Linked DNA regions of Homo sapiens. The protein of the gene in region 2 purifies or fractionates together with the protein of the main gene of each other region. This does not show direct contact. Each region holds a gene or a part of one and is shown on either strand. Other genes may lie near its edges. The genes, in order: YTHDC1, SRSF4 and HP1BP3.

The links.
Region 1: the proteins of SRSF4 (region 2) and YTHDC1 purify together in Homo sapiens (co-immunoprecipitation; 2 studies listed by BioGRID and IntAct, with this or other methods). This does not show direct contact.
Region 3: the proteins of SRSF4 (region 2) and HP1BP3 purify together in Homo sapiens (affinity purification with mass spectrometry; 2 studies listed by BioGRID and IntAct, with this or other methods). This does not show direct contact.

What each region holds. Positions count from the first base shown.
Region 1 is NC_000004.12:68,325,507-68,334,004, forward strand, and holds part of YTHDC1 (YTH domain-containing protein 1), read right to left. Parts: intron 7,892-8,498; coding exon 7,802-7,891; intron 7,342-7,801; coding exon 7,288-7,341; intron 6,692-7,287; coding exon 6,597-6,691; intron 4,805-6,596; coding exon 4,696-4,804; intron 4,614-4,695; coding exon 4,496-4,613; intron 1-4,495. UniProt on the Homo sapiens protein: Regulator of alternative splicing that specifically recognizes and binds N6-methyladenosine (m6A)-containing RNAs.
Region 2 is NC_000001.11:29,171,071-29,179,568, forward strand, and holds part of SRSF4 (serine/arginine-rich splicing factor 4), read right to left. Parts: intron 4,649-8,498; exon of another isoform or gene 1-4,648. UniProt on the Homo sapiens protein: Plays a role in alternative splice site selection during pre-mRNA splicing. Represses the splicing of MAPT/Tau exon 10.
Region 3 is NC_000001.11:20,770,308-20,777,307, forward strand, and holds part of HP1BP3 (heterochromatin protein 1-binding protein 3), read right to left. Parts: intron 6,444-7,000; coding exon 6,290-6,443; intron 3,304-6,289; coding exon 3,144-3,303; intron 767-3,143; coding exon 623-766; intron 1-622. UniProt on the Homo sapiens protein: Component of heterochromatin that maintains heterochromatin integrity during G1/S progression and regulates the duration of G1 phase to critically influence cell proliferative capacity.

The DNA.
Region 1 (8,498 bases), on a different chromosome or scaffold from region 2:
TTACATGAATTTTCTTGAAAGTGAATATTGCCTGCTCAGACCTTTTTTTAAATTTAATTTTTTAGAGATTGGATCTATTTTGCCTTGGCTGATTGTGAATAAATGGGCTCAAGCAATCCTCTCACCTCAGCCTCCGAAAATGCTAGGATTACAGCTGTGAGCCACCACACCTGGCCTGAATGCTCAGATCTTATATAACTTGTTTTAAACCTCAGGAAAAACTTTGACATTTTCCAGGGAAATAGAAGTATTTTAGAGTTAAATTAACAAGGTGGTATATTCTGTGATGGAGGTGATATATATATACATGGAAGAGTGGTCAGTGAGTAATGAAAATATCCACTAAGTATCACTTAAAAGCTTGGTTTCTTTTTCTAATATACACCTTACTTCACCCATCAAGAGTGAGTCAAAAATACTGAATTTTTTTTCCCCCTTTTCAGGCTCTCAGAAGTAGAAAGACTAGAACAAGTCCACATCAAAGCTTGAATATCCAGAGGCAGAGATCTAGTTTTCTTTGTATTCTGTTGAATAATTTAAATTTTTCTTCTAATTGCCAGTTTAAAACAGTTATAGGAAAGGCATAAATGAAAACCTACAGCCACCAAAATATAAGAAGGTTATAAATTAATGGGATTATCACTGTTATTTAAATATCAGCAATTAAATACCCACGATCCAAGTAGAAGTAAAAGCATAGGCCAAGCTAAATGTATCATTTGGGGTTGAGATTCTTTGGTGGCACTGGTTCCAACTAGATTCAAGAGACATCTGTTCACTGTTTCAACACAGTTAATCTCAGCCAGAACATCACAGAAAACTGTGAAGCCTGAGGCAAAACAGGGCTCAGAATAAATTAAGAAAAATTGCAGGGTCTGTGATCCATGTAGCATCCTTATTTTATCCTTTCTTCTCAGATCACAATCATAGAACAAGCAACCTAACAGTTACCTTCTGAGCAGCTATGTTATGAAGCATACAGATACAACTTATCTTTACTGTGAGTTCTTTGAGAACATGTAAGGGACTCTCTGACCTAAGTGGTTCTGCAAATAGGGCAAATTTAACAAAGAATGTAAAACTGTGCACAGTTTTTTGTTTTGAGACACAGTCTCACTCTGTTACCCAGACTGGAGTGCAGCTGCATGATCTCGGCTTGCTGCAACCTCCGCCTCCTGAGTTCAAGGGATTCTCATGCCTCAGCCTCCCATGTAGCTGGGACTACAGGCATGCGCCACCACATCTGGCTAATTTTTGCATTTTTAGTAGAGACGGGGTTTCACCATGTTGGCCATGCTAGTCTCGAACTCCTGGCCTCAAGTGATGCACCCACCTCAGCCTCCCAAAGTGCTGGGATTACAGGCATGAACCACTGCGCCCAGCCATGCAGAGGCTCTTATATGCTGGACAGTGGTTTGTTGATTAAAGTTAAAAAGAAAAATGGAGGCCGGGCGCAGTGGCTCATGCCTGTAGTAATCCCAGCACTTTGGGAGGCTGAGGCGGGCGGATCACCTGAGGTCGGGAGTTCGAGACCAGCCTAACCAACATGGAGAAACCCCGTCTCTACTAAAAATAAAAAATTAGCCGGGCGTGGTGGCACATGCCTGTAATCCCAGCTACTAGGGAGGCTGAGGCAGAAGAATCGCTTGAACCCGGGAGGCGGAAGTTGTGGTGAGCCGAGATTGCGCCATTGCACTCTAGCCTGGGCAACAAGAGCGAAACTCCGTCTCAAAAGAAAAGAAAAGAAAAATGGAGAGACTCTAAATGAAAACAGAAATGGGTTGTTTGGAATGGACATGAAAGGAATATAACACCTAGTCAGTAAATGTAACTCTGGATGAATAGTATTTCATAGATCATGCCTTATTTTGAGCTAATTACAGGTGGCAACCTTAATAAGTCGCTTTTTATGCCTCCCTCTCTTTATCAGCTAAAACATGACACTTATCTGGTCCCAATCTTCCATGTGCCTACCAACTACCTGAACCATCAAGAATTTAACAGGTTTGAGGTGGGTTTCAAGATTCTGCATTTTAACAGTCAGATGCTACTGATGTAAGTGATCCAGGGATCACACCTAAAAAAGCTTAAGTCTAGTTATTATTATATCCAAAGGGTCCTTAAATATAAATCTAATAATTATTATATCTGCAAAAGAAAAAAATATTAACAGCAGTTACTGTTGATAGCAAAGTCCTGACCATTTCTATTTATTAAATTTAAATGTTCTGAGACTCAAATGTAATTCTCACTATATAGAGAGAATTTAAACTCAAGAGAGTTCAAGTGACTTATCTAAGGAAATATCAATGTTAGAAATATCACAAGCCCTCCAGAACTGTAAAGTATTGTAAAATTACACTTGAATAGAACTTGAGTATTAAAACATTAAAACTATAGTTTTATTATGTAAAAATACTATTTCTAGGTAAACCCATAAACTTACTTTAAAATAATAAAAGCACTTTACTGCCCACAATTTTACACCTCACGTTAGTAGGATAGACAAATTGAGTCTGTCTACCTCTTCGGTTGCTTGATACATTTCAAACAAATTAGTAGAATAGTCAATAAGTCAATGAAGAGGAATATGAAGAATGAATAATCCATGAAAAATTAAATTCATCTTAAAATTAAGAATTTCCTTATCAGTAATGTAAAAATGAAGGTTAACAGAACAAATAACATTTGAAACAAAATCTGCTGCAACCCACATAAAAATGGGCAATTATTTTCTCTCCTGTTCCCAAGAAAGCAACACCTGCAAATATGTTACATTACAACGTTTCCTCTGGCCTTTACAGAGCAGTCACATACACACACAAAATAAAAATAATCACTCCCTTTCCTACAAATTGTCACCAGATTTTCAACTTTAATTATAACTTAATTATAATTTTGATTTCAAAAAAACCAAGTTTATATTTTAAAACCCCTGGGGGCAACAGAGAGGAAGTGGGAGAAAGCACTAACAGTCTCACCACCTAACACTGCATTCCAATACCATAATTATGTATTTTTTCATTTGTTATACCTTTCCATGTTGATATGTGCACAATTACTTCCACATATATTTAAGAGACAAACTATAATTTAACTAATTTTCTATTTCAAAGAATTTAGATGATTTCCAACTCTTTCCCACAGAAAGTAATAATGGGATGAGTATTTTTTCTGCACATAGCTTTTTGCTACGCTATTATCAACCTAATACAGTTATGTGTCACTTAATGACAGGGATACACTCATTAGGTGATTTCATTGTGTGAACATCACAGAATGCACTTACACAAACCTAAATGGTATAGCCTACTACATACCTAGGATATATGGTATGACCTGTTTCTCCTAGCCTACAAATCTGCACAGCATGTTACTGTATTGAATAGTGTAGGTAAATGTAACACAATGGAAAATACTTGTGTATCTAAACATAGAAAAGGTATAGTAAAATATGGTATTATAGGTACCTCTTACGAGTCCTACAGTCTTATGGGACAAGATTCTTTGTTGATGGGTATGTCACTACACAGTAAGTGACTGTATGCTATTTGTAATATATCACTCCCTCTATCTTCACAGCTCCTCACTATCCTACAATAAACATTTAGGCTGACTCACATTCATTCATTCTTATCCATCTTTGCCCTCTGTTCTTCTCTTTTCCTAACCATCTCCTTCATAAAAAAAGGTAGCTCCCTATCCCACTCACACATCCATATGCCCTCCCACTGCTCCCCACAACCCTGCAACCCCATAGTTTGTTTCCATGCTCTTCTTGGCTTAGGCTGATTTCCATCATATGCATAGCATTTTTCTTCTTTTTCATCCGACCCCTTCAGGCTCATCAAGATCTAATACCCAAAAACAACTTAAAACTCACAAAGTAACCATCTCCTTTCAGACACTTTTTAACTAAAATTAATTTTACAGGTAATACATTTGTGTATGCCACGTAAAGATCACTTAAATAATGAGCTTCTTGTGTACAATACTTCAGTGTGCAGTAAGGACCTAAAAATAGTGACAACTCAGTGTTCAAAATAAGCCTGATTATTTTTCTAATAAATACAGTTAAATCTTAACTCAGTTTCAGAAGATCACAATGGCAACTAAACATCATTTGCTAACCTCCTTAAAAAATACTGTCCACGACTAAACTAGTTACCTCCGAAATTGTTAGCCAAGTCATAGTACTTATTTCCCATTCCTCAATAACTTAAGTGACATGTTAAATCACTAAAATTATACAGATACGCCAGACAACATTTCAAGCAACTGTCCAATTCATTTACTGCTTTATTACTAATATACAAAACAAATCAAATACATGTAACTTTAGACTAAATACGCCTTTGTTGTGTCCCACATTAGATAAAGGTAGTTACTGAACAAGGTAAGATAAGTATACAGTGACTTTTTCACTTTAACACATTATTCTAAACTGGTAGTGTATTCAAAATTTCAGTTATCTATACTGAAGTGTATAATTTACCTGCAAATCCAGTCAATTTTAAAGACACCTCCCAGCATTTTAGCACTCATTCCTGCTGGAAGCACCCAGTGTATAGGAGATCCTCCGTGATGTGATTCTGAAGAAAGTCTTGCAAACCCTAAGAGAATCATATCATAATATAATATGTAGATGCTAATATAATTAATGTTTTTATATGTCCAAATTATTTTTATTCTTACCTTGAAATTTTCCACTCTCTCTGACAGAAAATATTAAGATAACACTCCTTGCAGATCTAAATGCAAGATTTAATTTCTTCTCATTTACAGGGAGCGTGGACCATACACCCTACATAAATAACATAAAGACCACAAAGTGAAATTAACTACAACTCTTTTGTGTTTCCAGTTATGTTTGAAAAAAAACTACATATTTTGGTGTGCTTTCAATTTAAGTAAGCTATAATGAAGAAAGGTTTTATTTATCAGCTGTCAGAATAACGTAGTAATAATTTATAAAAACCTAAGGGAAAAAATGGAGACAATTACCAATTTTACAAAACCATTAAAGCAAGTAGTAAATAGATGGAGATGAGGTTCAAATCTAAGGGACTAGAATTCTATATAGTAAAACCAATCACTACAATTATTTTAATATTACAACCATTTACTGTGGTAAATACATCCTGTTTGAAGGTGAATCGCCACTTAGAAGTTAGTCTTCTTGCAAAACCGTACCTGATCAAATAATTTAAAATTACTCTATTAGTCAAGAATCTAGCATTTTTCTATTTAAGTTCGTTTTTTAAAGCAGTTTTTAAGTTCAAATTTTTATGTATCAATAGTTTGACTGAAGAGGCCTACGTTTTACCTACAGCTGGAAGATATTTGTTAATTTCTAAAGCATTTTAACCAATTCTTCATTCATAACAGATAAAAAGAAATGGAATAATAAGGCAGATGCTATCATTCAGCTCACACCATCTGCTCATACAAATGACATCTCATTCAAACTAAGTGCTTACAGTTGTTCCTCAGTCTCCACTGGGGACTGGTTCCAGGACCCATGCAGATACCAAAATCTGAGGATGCTCAAGTCCCTTATATAAAATGGCACAGTATTTGCGTATAACCCATGCATATACTCCCATATACTTTAAATCACCTCTAGAATACTTATACCTAATACAATGTAAATGCTATGTGAATAGTTGTTATACTGTGTTTAAGTTTGTATTTTCTGTTTTATTATTTCTCATTCCTTTTTCCCCTAATATTTCAATCCAGTTAGTTAAATCGAAAGATGAGGAACCCTGTGGATACCGAGGGCCAAGTGTACTTCTGCCTAAATCCACTTAAGCTAGAGAACAGAATAAGGCTATTTGGTGTACTGTTTCCTTCTGTTTGTAAAGTTTTAGGGGTAGTCCTTAAGGTAGAAATATAGAATACTGACAGAAATATCATTAGAGAAATGTCTAACTTTAGTTTTAAGTTTCTGAAAATCAGTTGAAACTGTAGTTACTCAGTTTAAACCAAGAATAGCAAAACACTGTAACAGCTAGTGTAACACAAAAATGTATTTTTGTAGCCAAACATAAAAAGAAAATTATTATCTTACAACATCCTACAGCAACTATGCATATCTTTTTTGCAAAGTCTGGAGTGGATCTTTAAGCTAATTCTTTTTCTTCTAAATCCCAATGATCTTAATTCTAAAAAATAAAACTCTCCATAAAAGAATGATTTCAAAAGAACCTCAAAGTGTAAATCAAGCATCAACATAAAACAAAAATTGGTTAACTACAGGTACTTTTAGAAGTGTTAGCACAATAAATGAGCCACTGAGGAAGTACAGAAACAAAAATCAACAGAAACAGGATCTTTTACAGCAAAAAGTTAAACTGTATAGCCTTCAACATTTAATATTCTGACCCCTAAAATCATCTTAAAAAAAAAAAAAGAAAACTCAAATTACAAGTAGGCTGACTGACTACAACCAGATCCTAAGTGGCCATTGGAATGTAGATCTTTAAAGCCGTAATGAAAATCATAATACCTATGCTACTTGATATAATACAAGTCTATTTTCCCATTTAAAAATTTTGATATTAGGATAGTTTCAACAGAACTGATGCTAATACCTTCGCTTTGGCAAGAGACACATTCTCATGGTTGTTACTCTTTATGAGGAAAAATCTTGCATCTTGAAGCACATATTTGAGTTTACTGGTTTGATCTGAAAAAAAAAGAAACCCAAATCGATTAACCACAAGCCATTATCACACAAAGGGGTCAAAACTGTACTAACTGAAATTAGCCCTCCACAACCCAGCTAAACTTTTAAAACGCAACAATCACCCATTCAACCTGGAAGGCTAAGCCACATGTAATAAAGCAAAGCTAAGAAAAGACAATCAGCATATTGCAAGAAAGTAAACCTAACCTAGTGATGTTCCGATATATCAAATCCATATTTAAGTATGAAAATGGTTACCAAGTTTTATAGATTTTCTTACTCAGATTCAAGAATAACAGACCATTATATACATACATATATATACACACACATCTATATATAACACATACACACATACACACACACACCCATCCCATTTTGTCCAAAAACTAAAATATCCTGAAATGTTTGGTATTATTCTAAAAAATATGCAGTAAGAAGCAGACACAGAGCTTTCTATGTTAAGATATTATTTTTTGCTTCATGTAATATATCGGAACATTACTACATTAAAAGCAGCTATTAATGGAGAACCAATAAGGAAAAATAATGACTATGCAGCATGCAATGAAAACAATTTCAAATTTAAATGATACCTTTTCGGACAGCACGAACGGAAGATGATAATTTCTCATGCTTCTTTTCTGAACCTGTATTTAGCCAAAGTACATTTGTTCAGATTGAGCTTTAATAGAGATAAGACAAAATTTCTACAGTCTTGTCACATAAAATTCTCATTCAAGACAAATTATTCTTCCTGGCGCACCCACACACACAAAAAAAACTTCTCAATGTGTACGAGTGTTTTGCTTTTTGGGTTGTTTGGATTTTTTTAAAAGTATGTATATTTGAACAGTTTCCCACTCAGAAAACTAGTCACTGAATCATCATCTTCCAAGAAAAAAAAAGTGAAAATTCCACTTAAGCAGTAACAGAACAGGATTAAAATAATAAGAAAAAGCTTAGTTTTCTCTAGAATTATTACACTGAACATGCCAAAAATCAGTGCTAATGGACATCAACAAGTTCACACTAAACTACAGCCTCCACACGCTTTCTAAAGCAGATTACATTAGAATCAAGTCAGATATGATCACAAAATGAGAATACCTGCATATGACTCTGATGCAGAGCTTCCACTTCTATCAAAAACAATTGGAGATATGCCTCTAGCTCTCTTCCTTTCCTTCTTTTTCTCATCTAAAAAGAACAAGAGTTTTTTTTTTAAATCACAATACAGAAACGAAGAGAAGTAATCAAACAAGAATGTATCATTACATGTCTAGTTTTTGCATAGCCCTTCTATTAGTCTGTGCTCCTCTCTCCTGATCCCTCAATTTCCTCAGAATGTTTTATTTTAAAAATACTGTTTAAAAAGTACGGGCATCTTGTTTCTTTCATCAGTTTCAATCAAATAAAAACACACGAAATAACTACAAAGTCAGGGCCTTAATTGCCATATATAGGTGGCCTTGAATACAGTTTTCCAAGCGGGGGGGGAAATTTGCAAAGCAAAAACAATTTCTTTCAAAACTGTGTCCTTTCTACACACCAGGTAACACTGTCTTAAGTCCTTATTTTTTTAAACTCCACTACCATTCTTCAGCACAATTACAATTCTGATTCTATCTTAAGAGATCTGATGAACCCCTGAACCCAAAGCTTTACAACTGGAAAAATATATATACCATAATTAGTGATTCCCTTCTGGTTGCCATTGCTTGTTTTTGTGTCTTCTATTTCATTCTCCTTAGCCATTTCCTCCCTGGATTACTGCTCTTATTTTCAAATTCAATTTAAAATTTAT
Region 2 (8,498 bases):
CAGACGGCCCTAGGAATGACAATAAGGCAGAGAACATTTACTTGTACAAATCCTTCCTCAGCCAACCACGATAAAGCTGATACCACCTTACAGCTTTTCAAAGAGTAGCCTGAGGAGGAGAATCACTAGCAGTCTCCAACTAAGGACAACATCATAAAAAATACCATCTGTCTCACTTTTGGCAGTAACTTGTCAGCTTGCTGGAAGCCTCTACAGAGACTAAAGGCTGAACAAGCCCGGAAACCTGAACTACCCTCTCACCCTCAGAGGCAATCCCCAAAGGACAGGACTAAAGGAAATAGCATGAGGGAAGCTTTGAATGTCAATGCCCACATGTATCTAGTATGGGAATTTAAAAAATCTTCTATTTCCGGAGTTGTCAATAACTCATTTTGTAACCTTGGGCCAGTCACCTTATCACCCCATGCCTCAGTTTCCCCATCAGTACAAACTAGGGACAACACTTGTTCATAAAGTACTTTGACATACTCAGTTGAAAAATAAGTCATACAAATGCATTAATATTTTCGGAAGTTTTAAGATTTCAGTGTTAGCTTACAAATTTGTAAGTATCACCCCAACGGTATTCTCTCAGATGCCTGGAGCACCTTTCTTCTGAGGAGCTCAAAGTAAAATTTGCGGTTCTGGGTACCTGGAAGCATAAAAAAATACTAGAAACCCAAACCACATTTTATTACCGAGTCTATATCCTGTGCCTATCTTTTAAGAAGGGACAAATACTTCGTATGGCCCTTAAATTCATACAGTACCTCAATGAGAAAGGAGGAGCAAAACAGTATATTAAACTGAAGAACAGGGATTTTAAATGACTTAGTCAAATAATTACAAATGATGTTTATTCATACCACAAACTGAAGGGACCAAGAACCAAGGAGTGGAGGTCTTGAACCAGGGCAATTTACGCTGTTAACATTTGGTCAAAAATCTCAATATGGTATTATCTCTTGGCATTGATTTTTCAAAATGACAGAAAAAAATTAAATTCCCCATATATTGGGGGAAAAAAATAATACACTTTTTTGGGGGGTAAGTTGACTTTAAAAAGTGACTTTTAATAAAAAAAAATTTGATCACATTTGTAATAGTTATATTACTAATAAAACAATGACAGAATGCTACTTAATTCATAGTCCTATCTCTATTTATTATTCATTCAAGAAAAACTTCCTGATTATTTTTCACTTGGTAAATTAGCATCTTTTATTTTTATTTTTTATTTTTGAGACAGAGTCTCACTCTGTCACCCAAGCTGGAGTGGAATGGTGTGATCTCACACTGCAACTTCCGCCTCCCGGGTTCAAGCGGTTCTCCTGCCTCAGCCTCCCGAGTAGCTAGGATTGCAGGAGCCTACCACCATGCCCAGCTAATTTTTGTAATTTCAGTAGAGACAGGGTCTCATCATGTTGGTCAGGCTGGTCTCGAACTTCTGACCTCAGGTGATCCGCCCGCCTTGGCCTCCTAAAGTGCTGGAATTACAGACGTGAGCCACCACGCCTGGCCAGCAAACACAACAGGGGTACTCCATGCTGTTGAAGTGCCCATCACACGGGCATGCTCATACACTGCGGGTGTTAAGTGTAACTGGTGTAGCTTTTCTGGAAAGTTATTTGGTTATATGCACTGAGATACTTGAATATGTTCACTCCTGCTGTGACACATGAATTTTATTTCATGGAATCCATATGTACTCAGGGATAATAAAAATGCAAACAAAGTTTTATGCACATAATACCCATCACAGGGTTACTTATAACAGCAAGAATTAGGAGACCAAAAAAAAGGTAGACAATATAAGAGGAATGGTTGGGTAAGTCATAATATTGCCATACAATGGATTTTATGAAGCCATTAATAAGGAAGATTTTAATGTAATAGAAAATACATGAGATAAATTAAGTAAAAAAAGCGTGACACAAAATTGCACGTAAAACCTCACCCATCTTAAAAGGATGCTTAATGATACTTTTCACTTTATGCTTTCATAATATCTAAATGATCTACAATTAACCTACATTTATTCTCTAATGAGTCAAAAAGGCTTTTTTTTTTTTTTTTTTTTTTTTTGAGACAGAGTCTTGCTCTGTCATCCAGGCTGGAGTGCAGTGGTGCGATCTCGGCTCACTGCAAGCTCAGCCTCCCGGGTTCACGCCATTCTCCTACTTCAACCTCCCAAGTAGCTGGGACTACAGGCGCAGGCCAACAGGCCCGGCTAATTTTTTTTGTATTTTTTTTTTAGTAGAGATAGGGTTTCACCATGTTAGCCAGGATGGTCTCGATCTCCTGACCTCGTGATCCGCCCGCCTCGGCCTCCCAAAGTGCTGGGATTACAGGTGTGAGCCACCACGCCTGGCCTAAAAAGTTGTTTTTTTTTTTTCTTTTTTTTTTTTTTTTTTGAGATGGAGTCTCACTCTGTTGCCCAGGCTGGAGTGCAATGGTGCAATCTCGGCTCCCGGGTTCTAGCGATTCTCCTGCCTCAGCCTCCTAAGTAGCTGGGATTACAGCAAGTGCCACCATACCCAGCTAATTTTTGTCTTTTTAGTACAGACGGGGTTTCACCATGCTGGCCAGGCTGGTCTCAAACTCCTGACCTCAAGTGATCCGCCCACCTCAGCTTCCCAAAAGTGCTGGGATTACAGGTGTGAGCCACCGCACCTGGTCCAAAAAGTTCTTGAATTTGTTATGCTTGATAGGCTAAATAGACAAGCCTTAAAGGCTGCCAAATGATTTCCTCATATATAATTCTAAACATTTTAATTAGAAAAAATTAGTTTAAAAAATTATAATAAAGGGCACTGTTCAGAAAAGTAGGAACTCTTGGTGGGTGCGGTGGCTCACGCCTGTAATCCCAGCACTTTGGGAGGATGAGGTGGGCGGATCACCTGAGGTCAGGAGTTTGAGAACAGCCTGGCCAACAAGGTGAAACTGTGTCTCTACTAAAAATACAAAAATTAGCGGGGTGTGGTGGCAGGCGCCTGTAATCCCAGCTACTTGGGAGGCTGAGGCAGGAGAACTGCTTGAACCCGGGAGGCAGAGGTTGCAGTGAGCTGAGATCATGCCACTGCACTGCACTGCAGCCTGGGAGACAGATTGAGACCCCATCTCAAAAAAAAAAAGAAAAAAGAAAAAAAAAAATAGGAGCTCTTAAACACCGCAGGTGGAAACGTAAATATTAATTTACCGAGTAATGGAATAGCTAGCAAAAGCATTAAAATGTGTATATGCTTTGACTCCCAAAGTCTACTTGCAGGAATCTGCCCTAAGGCAAAAAGAAATGTATACAAAAATTCATATAAAGGATATTCAACAGTATTATACATGCATAAAATAGTACAAAAATAAAGATAACCTAAATGCCTTGCAACATGGTTCTGATTATGTCCATTAAATAACATATGTATGTTGGAGTACTATGTAGCCATTAGAAACCAGGTTGTAGGAGAATACTTAATGACAAAGGAAAAGGATCAGGCTGTTAGGGTGAAACAAGCAAATTATAAAATAACTTATAGTATGATTCCAAGTTTGGAAAAAAAAAAGGAGTCAGGAGAGGCATAAGAAAAGGGAGAGACTGTGCAGGAGATAGGTTTTTTTTTTTTTTTTTTTGATGGAGTCTTGCTCCATCACCAGGCTGGAGTGCAGTGGCCCGATCTAGGCTCATTGCAACCTCCACTTCCTGGGTTCAAGCAATTCTCCTGCCTCAGCCTCCTGAGTAGCTGGGACTACAGGCGTGCGCCATCATGCCCAGCTAATTTTTGTATTTTTAGTAGAGACAGGGTTTCACCATGTTGGCCAGGATGGTCTCAATCTCTTGACCTTGTGATCTGCCAGCCTTGGCCTCCCAAAGTGTTGGGATTATAGGCGTGAGCCACCACAACTGGCCGGTGGGTTTTTTAATTAAAAAAAAAAAAAAGAAAAGAAGAGAGACAGAGTGCGTGCGTGCACATGCCCATACCTGTATGTGAAAAAAAGTAAAACTAAAAAACCCAAAATGCAAAGAGTTACATCTTTGGATTATTTTGGTCCTTCTCCATATAAAAAAATTATAATAGGCCAGGTGTGGTGGCTCACGCCTGTAATCCCAGCACTTTGTGAGGTAGATCACTTTGAGGTCAGGAGTTCAAAACCAGGCTGGCCAACGTGGTGAAACCCCGTTTCTACAAAAAATACAAAAATTAGCCGGGGGTGGTGGTGCACACCTGTAATCCCAGCTACTTGGGAGGCTGAGGCAGCAGAATCGCTTGTACCTGGGAGGTGAGCCACGATTGTGCCACTGCATTCCAGCCTGGGCAACAGACAGAGACTCCATCTCAAAAAAAATTTCCGGCCGGGCGTGGTGGCTCACGCCTGTAATCCCAGCACTTTGGGAGGCCGAGGCGGGTGGATCATGAGGTCAGGAGATCGAGACCATCCTGGGTAACACAGTGAAACCCCGTCTCTACTAAAAATACAAAAAATTAGCCGGGAGCGGTGGCGGGCTCCTGTAGTCCCAGCTACTTGAGAGGCTGAGGCAGGAGAATGGCGTGAACCCAGGAGGCGGAGCTTGCAGTGAGCCGAGATTGCGCCACTGCACTCCAGCCTGGGCGACAGAGCCAGACGCTGTCTCAAAAAAAAAAAAAAAAAAAAAAAAAAAAATTTCCAATTATAAATATGTGCTACTTTGAAAATTAAGAGTGGGTCTTTAATTTTAACTATACATAAAGAGAGTTATTCAAACACGCTTTTAAACAAAACTTGTTTTAACCTCTTCTTAGATAATCCTAAAATTAATCCAGAACCAAATGTCTTCCTTTTCTTAACATAGACTCTAATGCTTTGTACATGCCAGTGCAAATGGGATGCTATTTCTGAGGCTGGCAGAAGGGCTTAAAAACAAAAAGGTGGCCGGGCATGGTGGCTCACACCTGTAATCCCAGCACTTTGGGAGGCCGAGGCAGGTGGATCATGAGGTCAGGAGATCAAGACCATCCTGCCTAACACGGTGAAACCCTGTCTCTACTAAAAATACAAAAAATTAGCCGGGCGTGGTGGCACGCGCCTGTAGTCCCAGCTACTTGGGAGGCTGAGGCAGGAGAATTGCTTGAACCCAAAAGGCGGAAGTTGCAGTGAGCTGAGATTGTACCACTGCACTCCAGCCTGGGCGACAGAGCAAGACTCCATCTCAAAAAAAACAAAAAACAAAAAACAAAAAAACAACAAATAGGTGGTAGGGTTCCTAAAGGCAAAGTGTTTGCTTTTTCTTTTGTCACTCATTAGTTATAGCATTATCATAAAAATGATAAAGCACTTCTCTGCCACTTGGTGGTGGGTGAAGATAATCCCTCTCATGATTAAGAATACGGTAACGATGAATGACAGAGCCTTGGGAGAAGCCTTGGGAGAATTAAAAACTAAAAACTTTAAAAAAAAAAAAAAGAAAAAAATACTGTAACAGCTCATCTAACCAGAAACCAGCAACCTGGAACATTAAACTAACTATATACTTCCTAATCTGTCAAGAATTCAGGAGTCAAAAGAGAAAAATCCCTGTGTAGGTGCTGGGGTTGGCAGTAATTCTTCTCAGTATCTAAGGCTTAATAATGCCCTCCAGTGAGCAGTGACATACACAACAACGACCTGCCTCACTCGAAGAGTCTTGAACTCCACATTAAAAAAATTATGGTGCATTAAACAAGGGCGAAAACAAAAATTTTCTGGTAATAATTAGATAGCATGACTAAACAGACCACAACATCCCCTGAAAATTCAGGCTATTCATGATTTCACTGTTCCATGAAACGCAGGTTCTGAAGTTTAAATCCAAGTTTCCCTTGAGAGTTTTAATTCATGACTTGAACTAAAAAATAAAACTATAAATTTCAATGATCTGGGGGTTTATCCTTCTAGCTACTAGACAGGCAAAATAATCTTAATATGTGGTAAGTTTTACTCATTAACTAAAATATGGAAAAGCTAAGATATAAAGATCTGACTAAAACCACAAGATTTTATGACAAAAGGGCAACTAGTGTACTCAAAATTCTTTCACACTTTACATGAAATGGCTTATTATAAAAAATAAAATCTATATACAATCAAAGCCAACAAAAGTTACCACAGAGCTGAAAGGGTATAAACAAGTGCTGCTAATATTGTTGCTTCCTTGACGTGCATCTAGGATTCCTGCCCCTCCCTTCCCTACAGTAACTCTTTTTGTTTTTTTTTTTTTTTGAGACGAAGTTTTGCTCTTGTTGCCCAGGCTGGAGTGCAATGGCAGGATCTCGGCTCACCGCAACCTATGCCTCTGAGGTTCAAGTGATTCTCTTGCCTCAGCCTCCCGAGTAGCCAGGATTACAGGCATGTGCCACGACGCCCGGCTAACTTTGTATTTTTAGTAGAGACAGGGGTTTCTCCATGTTGGTCAGGCTGGTCTTGAACTTATGACCTTGGGTGATCTGCCTGCCTTGGCCTCTCAAAGTGCCGGGGTTACAGGTGTGAGCCACCGTGCCAGGCCCTTGCAGTGACTCTTGAAGTTTATGGGGCGGGTAGAAAAGTAGGAGACCTTAATGGGAAATGGAATGGTCTATATGATCCTGGGAGATCTTCGTTGTATTTGTGGTCCCAAACCATCTTTCAAAAAGTTCTCTAGAACAGTGGCAATCTACATTAGCGATGCCTGGTGTAATAAAACGGTAGGCAATGAACTCTTGCTTACACACCTCTTCTCCAAACCCTCTCAGGGTCCATAGAATCCTTTCCTGAACACTAAATCTCCTTTGAAGAACTCATTTGTTTCCTTATTTGGTCATCTTCCTATTACACAAGATTTTTTTTTTTTTTTTTTTTTTTTGAGACAGAGTCTTGCTCTGTTGCCTAGGTTGGAGTGCAGTGATGCAATCTCTGCTCACTGCAACCTCCACCTCCCAGGTTCAAGCAATTCTCCTGCCTTAGCCTCTAGAGGAGCTGGGATTACAGGTGCCCACCACCACACCCAGCTAATCTTTGTATTTTTAGTAGAGATGGGGTTTCACCATGTTGGCCAGGCTGGTCTCAAACCCCTGACTTCAAGTGATCCACCTACCTCGGCCTCCCAAGGTGATGGGATTACAGGTGTGAGCCACCGTGACCGGTCTAGACAAGCATTTTATGCCTTAATTCTAAACTTAACTTACAACCCTTCAGCCTAACATATCTACTGATACATCTCACTTCTACAAATCTGAACTCCAGCAATTCTTCAAAGACCTATCTAAAGCATCCAAAATCTGTTTCTGAGTTTCAATTACTTTTTTTTTTGAGACAGAGTCTCGCTGTCGCCCAGGCTGGAGTGCAGTGGCACGATCTCGGCTCACTGCAAGCTCCACCTCCCAGGTTCACGCCATTCTCCTGCCTCAGCCTCTCGAGTAGCTGGGACTACAGGTGCCTGCCACCATGCCCGGCTACTTTTTTTTAATTTTTATTTTCATTTTTAGTAGAGACGGGGTTTCACCATCTTAACCAGGATGGTCTCGATCTCCTGACCTCGTCATCTGCCCGCCTCGGCCTCCCAAAGTGCTGGGATTACAGGCCACCGCGCCCGGCCTCTGAGTTTCAATTACTAATCACAATCTAGATATGTTCAAACATGCTTCCCAGTAGGGAGATCCACTGCCCTTCTGCTAGGGGACTATAAGCTTACATACGTAGCTAAGTTATGCTTTTTCTTTTGTACTCACTCCTTCCTTTCAGACTCTCCAGCGTTTTTGCCATACAGGCAATTTTTGCTTGAAATACATCTTTACCATTGGTCTTCTTCCCAGAAGTCGTTTTCCTCTGTAATGATTCCTCAATGATGCCAGGAGGTCATATTGTGTGCTGTTTGGTGACTGTCATACCTGTCTTTGAAACTCTAAAATGACTTCATTTCAACCTTGACTTTCAATGACATTTCATGCATATCATGGTTTGGCAGCATAACTGTAAGAATGAACAGTTCCTTAAAAAAACCACCCAGGTATTTAGGGTCCTGAAAGGCTCTTTCCTCTTATCGCTCCATCTTCCTTTTGGGTTGCTCACTTCTTCCTTCCAGAGCCTTTGAATTCCTACTCATTGATTTCGAATTTTTAGTGTAAAATCTAATAGTCGTTGTTTCTGGTTTATGTTGTTAAATTTCTAGATTCTTCATAAGGCTTGATCCATGCTAGATTGTTTATTATTTTTCATAATTGCTTCTTACTGGACCATGTCTTCAACACCAATTATGACATTAAAAAAATATTTTTTCCCTATTCATCAAAAAGCAAAAAAAGTCAGCATTGTACTTATTTTATTAGAGATGGGGGTCTTGCTGTTACCCAGACTGGAGTGCAGTGTCACAATCATAGCTCACTGTAGCCTTGAAATCCTAGGCTGAAGTGATCCTCCTGCCTCATCCTCTGAAGTAGCTAGGACTATAGGCGAGTGTCACCACGCGTGGCTAATTAAAAAAATTTTTTTCTTAGAGATGGGGTCAGGCTGGTCTC
Region 3 (7,000 bases), 8.4 Mb from region 2:
GCAATTATTATTTCTGTTATTCCTTTTTGTTTTCAGACAGGGTCTCACTCTCACCGAGGCTGGAGTGGTGAGATCGTAACTCACAATAGCCTCAACCTCCCAGGCTCAAGCGGTCCTCCTGCCTCTGCCTTCCAAGTACCTGGGACTAGAGGCATGTGTCACCAAACCCTGCTGATTTTGTATTTTTTGTAGAGAAGGGGTCTTGCTATGTTGCCCAGGCTGGTCTCGAACTCCTGGGCTCAAGTGATCCTCCCAACTAAGCCTCCCAAGGTGCTGGGACTACAGGTGTAGGCCACCATCCCTAGCCTCATTTTTGCTGTTTCAGTAGTAGGATTCCTTACCTCTTTTTCATGTTCAGTGCTACATGATTTCAAGCACAAGCAGCCCCCCAAAAAATATCCAATTAAGAGCAAAGTAAGCTAGAAAAAAGTTACACTATCTTAATGGCACCAGCATTTTCGAAACCTAGCCTCAGATAATTCAACTAGGTTAAACTTAAGGAATTTCATCATCATGAAACTTATTTTTAACAAAAAAGGCACAAAAAGCCTAAATGTTACTAACTGTAGACTTAAAGCTAATACACAATGAAATGATCTTACTACTAACAATTGTGTAATACCTGTTTGATGACTCCTCTATTTAATTCTCTTTTCAGTGCTTGTTTAAGGAGATAACCCCTTCTCTCCAGCTCCAGAGAAGGATACTTATGGATGATGTATTTTCGAATAGCAACCACTGATGCACCACTCTTCTGGAAGCATGCCTAGAAAAGATTTATTAAACTAGTTGTTTTTTTTTATTAGATAGAGCCTGACATATATTTTCAAAATAAATTATTTTGGAAGTGAATTTGATGATAGATGACAAAAACGGTAGGGAAGAATGAACTTCAGAAGACTTCAGTTCATAATGACTACAGAGAAGTAACAGAATTACTAAATATTTCTACTACAATTTTAAATTGTTCAAAACAGCCTAAGAGACCATACTGAACACGAACAACATTCTATGTATAATGAAGAACCTCTTTCCATTTTAATTCCATTCTGTATTTAGAAGATGAATCTTTGGCATCAAAATGAGAAAAGCAGAACAAACCTATCACTTACAGGATCACAGATCTGTCCCATTTTAAGGCACGAGCTTAAGGAATGAGCATGCCAGGACATTTCCCTGAAGGCTCTGTATGAATGTCAGCAGAAAGAAGAATCAAAGATAATCTGAATAAGTGGCATAAAAATGGGTTTACAGATGGCAAAGTGCTGAAGGAGAGTTTTGGGTAATAGTGAAGGTGTTCTATTTGAATTTAATGTGCCCTCTTCCATTTCCATCCTATTTTACTTATACTCCATTTGACTAATGCACCTGGAAGAATTAAGTAGCTCATTATGTCACAAAGGCAGCAAATACTTAATTTTTTTCAAATGCTTAAAATTTTGTTTTCCAACTGGTCACTGACTTGAAATCAAATACTTTAAATTTTGAAACACACAAAAGTAGCATCTGTCATTTATCTAATGAGCTAGTCCATCAATTTTGTACTGCCACAGTGTCTATTAAATCAATGTAGCACTTATTCATTCTCATTGGATAAGAACTTCGTTGAATGTTTTTATACATTTTGACAACAAAGAAAAATAACTCACAGGTAGATGGTCCAGAAAAGATTGCACAACACGAAACAAGTTGTATTAATATGGGTCATGTAATTCAAGTCTATGTCTCTGAACTATTAATGACCTACTGAGGTTTACTCCTGATCTTAAAAGAAAACACAGAGCAAAGAAAATCAAGCAGAAAAGAACACTAATGCTGAAACAAATAATCTTTTGCTCCACCAATCCGACAGTGAGATGGTAGTAGACATCATGATTCCTGTTCAATACAGAAAATGGTATCCATGGTCTGAAACAATAATTTGTCATATTGCATGGAATACACATTATCTATATAAAATCAATCATCTCCATAAATATGCACAATTATATTCAAACCATTCTTTAAGCCAAATTGATATTGTTTTAATTTTTTATTTCACTATTTTAAAGTTTCAGCCCTTTTTCCATCCTCACTATGATGCTGCTCCTTCAAACCCAGGCTGAGTGGTCATCAAGTGAAATCCTTGAAGAAAGGCTATACAAAGAACAGAGATTTCACTACAGTGAGGTAATCTAGACCAATAAAGTTTTCTTAATGAGGTGAGAGCATAAGAAGTCTTGAAGGAGTAAAGGGAGAAGTCTGAAGGCAAACCCTTTTTCCAGTTTATGTGTTAGTGCTATCTTCTCATATTCTGAGAATGACAACCAGGCTGCTCCTTTTCGTACACATCCCCCCTTTTCTGGTTAAAATCATCTGTATCCCTGTCTCCCCAGTCCTGCCTCAGATCCTAACAACAGGGTCCCTGAAAGATGGGTCTGTTCTAACTCCTCTTATCATCTGATCATATGAACTAAACAAGGCAAAATTAAATGAAAAGACTTATACAATAAAGGCAATGTCAAATTAGAAGATAACCTTTAAAAATTAAAATAGGAAAACTACATCTAATGAAAGTCAATGAAATCATAAATCTATGTAAGGAGGATAATTTTTGTAAGCATTTTGGAATGTCTAGGTAATAAAGCAGTGTTTATTAACAGGGTTCAGGTGTGAAAGATAACCACTACCAAGATCACTTAGCTTTAGAAATGAACCTAGAGATATTTTTTAAACAAAAATTCTCAATATTTTTCAGTTACTGAGTCACAATTAGATTTATAAGGGCAAGGACTTTGCTAGCCTTAGTTAATTCACCACTAGCAGGGGCGCCCAACAGAGGAAGGTAGTCCTTAAATGTTTGTTCAATGAATTAACATTTTCAGCCTTCAAATAAAAACTGTACTTAATCGATAAACTGCATTTAAAAATTCTAAAGTTAAAATATTTGCTATATTAAATATAATTTTTTTAAAAAAATTAACAGTGTTCACCAAATGTGATTATATTAGAAAAACATGAACTTATAATGACTTTCCTCTCTTTAAAACTCCTTTAGGAAGCAGAACAAGATTTATGATGTCTAGACAGATATATGCCATTTTCAAATAAGAAAAAAATGAACATAATAAATCTAAGATGAATTGCTTGAAATAAAAACTTGCCTTAATGGCCTCAGTTAAGATTGCATCCATCTTGGGACGTGGGGAAGAAGCCATCGGTGTTTGTTTCTGGGCCCTGGCTAGCTGGCTGGCAGAAAGGGTAGCCCAGGAAGGAATTGTTTTTTTCACTTTCTTCTCCTTTTCTTTAGACTGATCTTTCTCACTTTAAAACAAAGAATTGTTATTATAGAAGATAAGCTCTCTAGAAAGACGTATAAAGTCAGAAGGAGGAAAAGACCAGGGAGGGATAAAAATTAATGCTTTAATTTATTTACAGGCTAAGATGACATGTACCATAAGCAAAATTTTACAAAATAAATCTTCTTTAAAAACTGGGTACTATAAATGAATTAAAAAGGTATTTTTCTCTTAGCTGCAGGAGAAAGGAGTCACATAAATTAGCACTGGTATAAGGGCTCAGTACATAAGACAAATGAGAATTTTAAAATGCACATTAGTTAACAATTACAACAGATGCAATATGGTATAGTGGAAAAAACTCAAGCTCTTAAAGTCAGAAAACCTTTGTTTGTATTTTCACTCAAACATTTACTAGCTAGCTATATGATCTTAGTAAATGATGTGAGTCTTTCTCCTCAGCTATAAAACAGTAATATAGAACCAACTATTTCCCAAGGTGTTGCAAGAATTATAAGAGTATGTTTATCAAAACAATTTTGTGAGATTTAAAGCATTATGTAAATTTTATTCTGAGTATATAACAGTACTCTGTGCACCTAATAGGTGCATTAGAACATTTAACAACAGACGATAGGCTGGGTGCAGTGGCTCATGCCTGTAATCCCAGCAATTTAGGAGGCTGAGGAGGGAGGACAGCTTGAGGCCAGGAGTTCAAGCCCAACCTAGCCAACATAGTGAGACGCCATCTCCATTAAACACACACACACACACACAAACACACCCACACCCACACACGATAGTTGCTATAAATTCCACAGACCTTAGCTATACTTATGAAACTCAGATAAAGAATACCCTGAAGATTATAGCTAGAAGGTATAGTTATTACTAAGTTATTCTTTTATGGTCATGTGCTGTGTAACAATATTTGGTCAACAGACCACATATACAATGGTGGTCCCTTAAGATTATAATGGAACTGAAAACCTCCTATTACCTGGTTAACATGATAGCTGTGGTAATATCACAGCGCAGCACGTTACTCACTTGTTTGTGGTGACATTGGTGTAAACAAACCTACAGTGCTGCCAGTCATACAAAAATATAGCATATTGGCTGGGCGCGGTGACTCATGCCTGTAATCCCAGCACTTTGGGAGGCCAAGGTGGGCGGATCACAAGGTCAAAAGATTGAGACCATCCTGGCCAACATGGTGAAACCCCCGTCTCTCCTGAAAATACAAAAATTAGCTAGGTGTGGAGGTGCACGCCTGTAGTCCCAGCTACTTGGCAGGTTGAGGCAGGAGAATCGCTTGAACCTGGGAGGTGGAGGTTGCAGTGAGCCCAGATCGCGCCACTGCACTCCACACTCCAACCTGGGTGACAGAGTAAGACTCCATCTCAAAAAAAAAAAAAAAGCACATTACAATTATACATAATACCTGATAATAAACAGCTATGCTACTAGTTTATGTGTTTACTATACTATACTTTTTATCATTAGAGTATATGTTTTCTACCTACAAAAAAAAAGTTAACTGTAAAACAGCCTCAAGCAGGTCCTTCAGAAGGTATTCCAAAAGACAGCACTGTTATCATAGGAAATGACAGGTCCATGTGTGTTGCTGCCCCTGAAGGCCTTGAGTGGGACAAGATCTGGAGGTGGAAGACAGTGATATTGATGACCCTGACCTTGTGCAGGCCTAGGTTAAGGTGTGTGTATGTGTCTTAGTTTTGTTTTTTTATAAATATGAGGTCTCACAACGTTGCCCAATCTAGATTCAAATTTCAGGACTCAAGCAATCCCCCCACCTCAGCTTCCTAAGTAGCTAGGGCTACAGCTGTGCACCATTGCGTCCGGCTTGTGTCTTTGTTTTTGGTAAAGTTTTAAAAGTTTTTAAAAATAAAAACTTTTTAGTTTTAAAAGTTGCTAAAAATAAAAACTTTTTAGTTTTAAAAGTTGCACACAGTAGTCCTAGGCCTTTGCATTCACTTACCACTCACTCACTCACCCAAACAACTTCCAATCCTTTAAGGTCCATTCATGGTAGGTGTCCTACACAGGTATACCATTTTTTATCTTTTATATTATATTTTTACTGTACCTTTTCTATGTTTAAATACACAAATACTTACCGTTGTGTTATAACTGCCTACAGTATTTAGTACAGTAACATGCTGTACAGGTTTGTAGCCTAGAAGCAACAGACTATCCCATAAAGCCTAGGTATGTAGTAGGCTGTACCACGTAGGTTTGTGTAAGTACACTTTATGATGTTGGCACGATGATGAAATCGCCTAAAGATGTATCTCTCAGAATGTATACCCATTGTTAAGCAATGCATGACTATAGTTAAAAGCAATTTCTAACTGTTCTGACCAATTATGAAAAGAGTGGAATGAATACTATCAGCTCTCCTGCAAAAAAAAAAAAAAAAAAATTAAAAATTAAAAAGTAACTGCCATCACTTTATATAGATACACATCAATAGCAAATTTTACTTTCAGATTCTCAAAGCCAATTCTTCAACTGAATATTTCATCAAACATATATAGACTTTTAGGTCACACTACCAATGGCTTGATACAAATCAATGCCTTCTAACATAAGCACACAAAAACAACCCACTCCTGGCACAGAAGTAGGAATAAAATAGTGAAATGTCTTCTAGGTCAGATTTTTATAGTTATGTTTCATTTCTTATTGAAGTCTTGCCAATGCTTAAAATATCAGATACTCCCACAATAAATTACAAGCTCAAAAACACATTCCAAAGCCAATGACAAAGACTTTTGGATTATTCAAACCATTGTGTTCTGCTAACTACAGCATATTCTAACAGGTCAAACAACTATATAATAAACCTATTTCAAATGGTAATTCTAAAAATTAAATCCAAATAGCAAATACCTAGCATAAACCAATGTTATAACACTTTAAAACAATCTAATCTAAAGTCCTTTTACACATTCTTCAAATATAAATAGCAAGAAGACATAACTCCTTACTCCTTTTTGGTTTCCTCAGAAGACTTATTTTCTTCCTTCTCTTCATTCTCAGGTTCCCCCTTTGGCTGCTCTGCCTCACTCGAAGTAGCAGGTGGAGTTTCATTCTCTTGTTCTTCTACAGTGGAGACAGATTCCTCTGAACTTATGTCTGGTTCTAAAAAATCAGGTGAGCAGAATTGCATAAGCAGATGTATTCCAATCTGAGTCAATAAAAGGTAAAAGCTTATCTTATTAAACGGACCAGCCAAAGTCTCCAATTAACAAATGAATTCTAAAATGAAAATGAATGACCACTAATGCAGTTTTCTTACATTCTTTATGTCACTCAAGTTTCCTGGTCAGGTGGTTATTTATCTATTATTAGAAAAATAGACCAGGAAATTACATAGAAAGGAAAACTCATTTCATCCCCAATTGTTTAATTATTCTACTTTGCAATATTCATGAGACTCATAATTAAGAAACTAGCCATTTTATAATTCAACAGGCAAATCTCAGAGAATAAGTAATTTAAAAACTCATGTATTCTCCAAGAGGAATGACTGAAGCAAGAGTAGAAATATGAGGGGAACATGGAGGTCTGCTGCTATTTGTGCCTTTCCTTCACAGCATGTCTCTGAGTAGCTACTATAAAACACAGAACCCCAGGCACTGGTTATGCAGGGACTTCAGAGAACTCCAAAAAAAAATAAAAATAAAAAAAATAAAAAA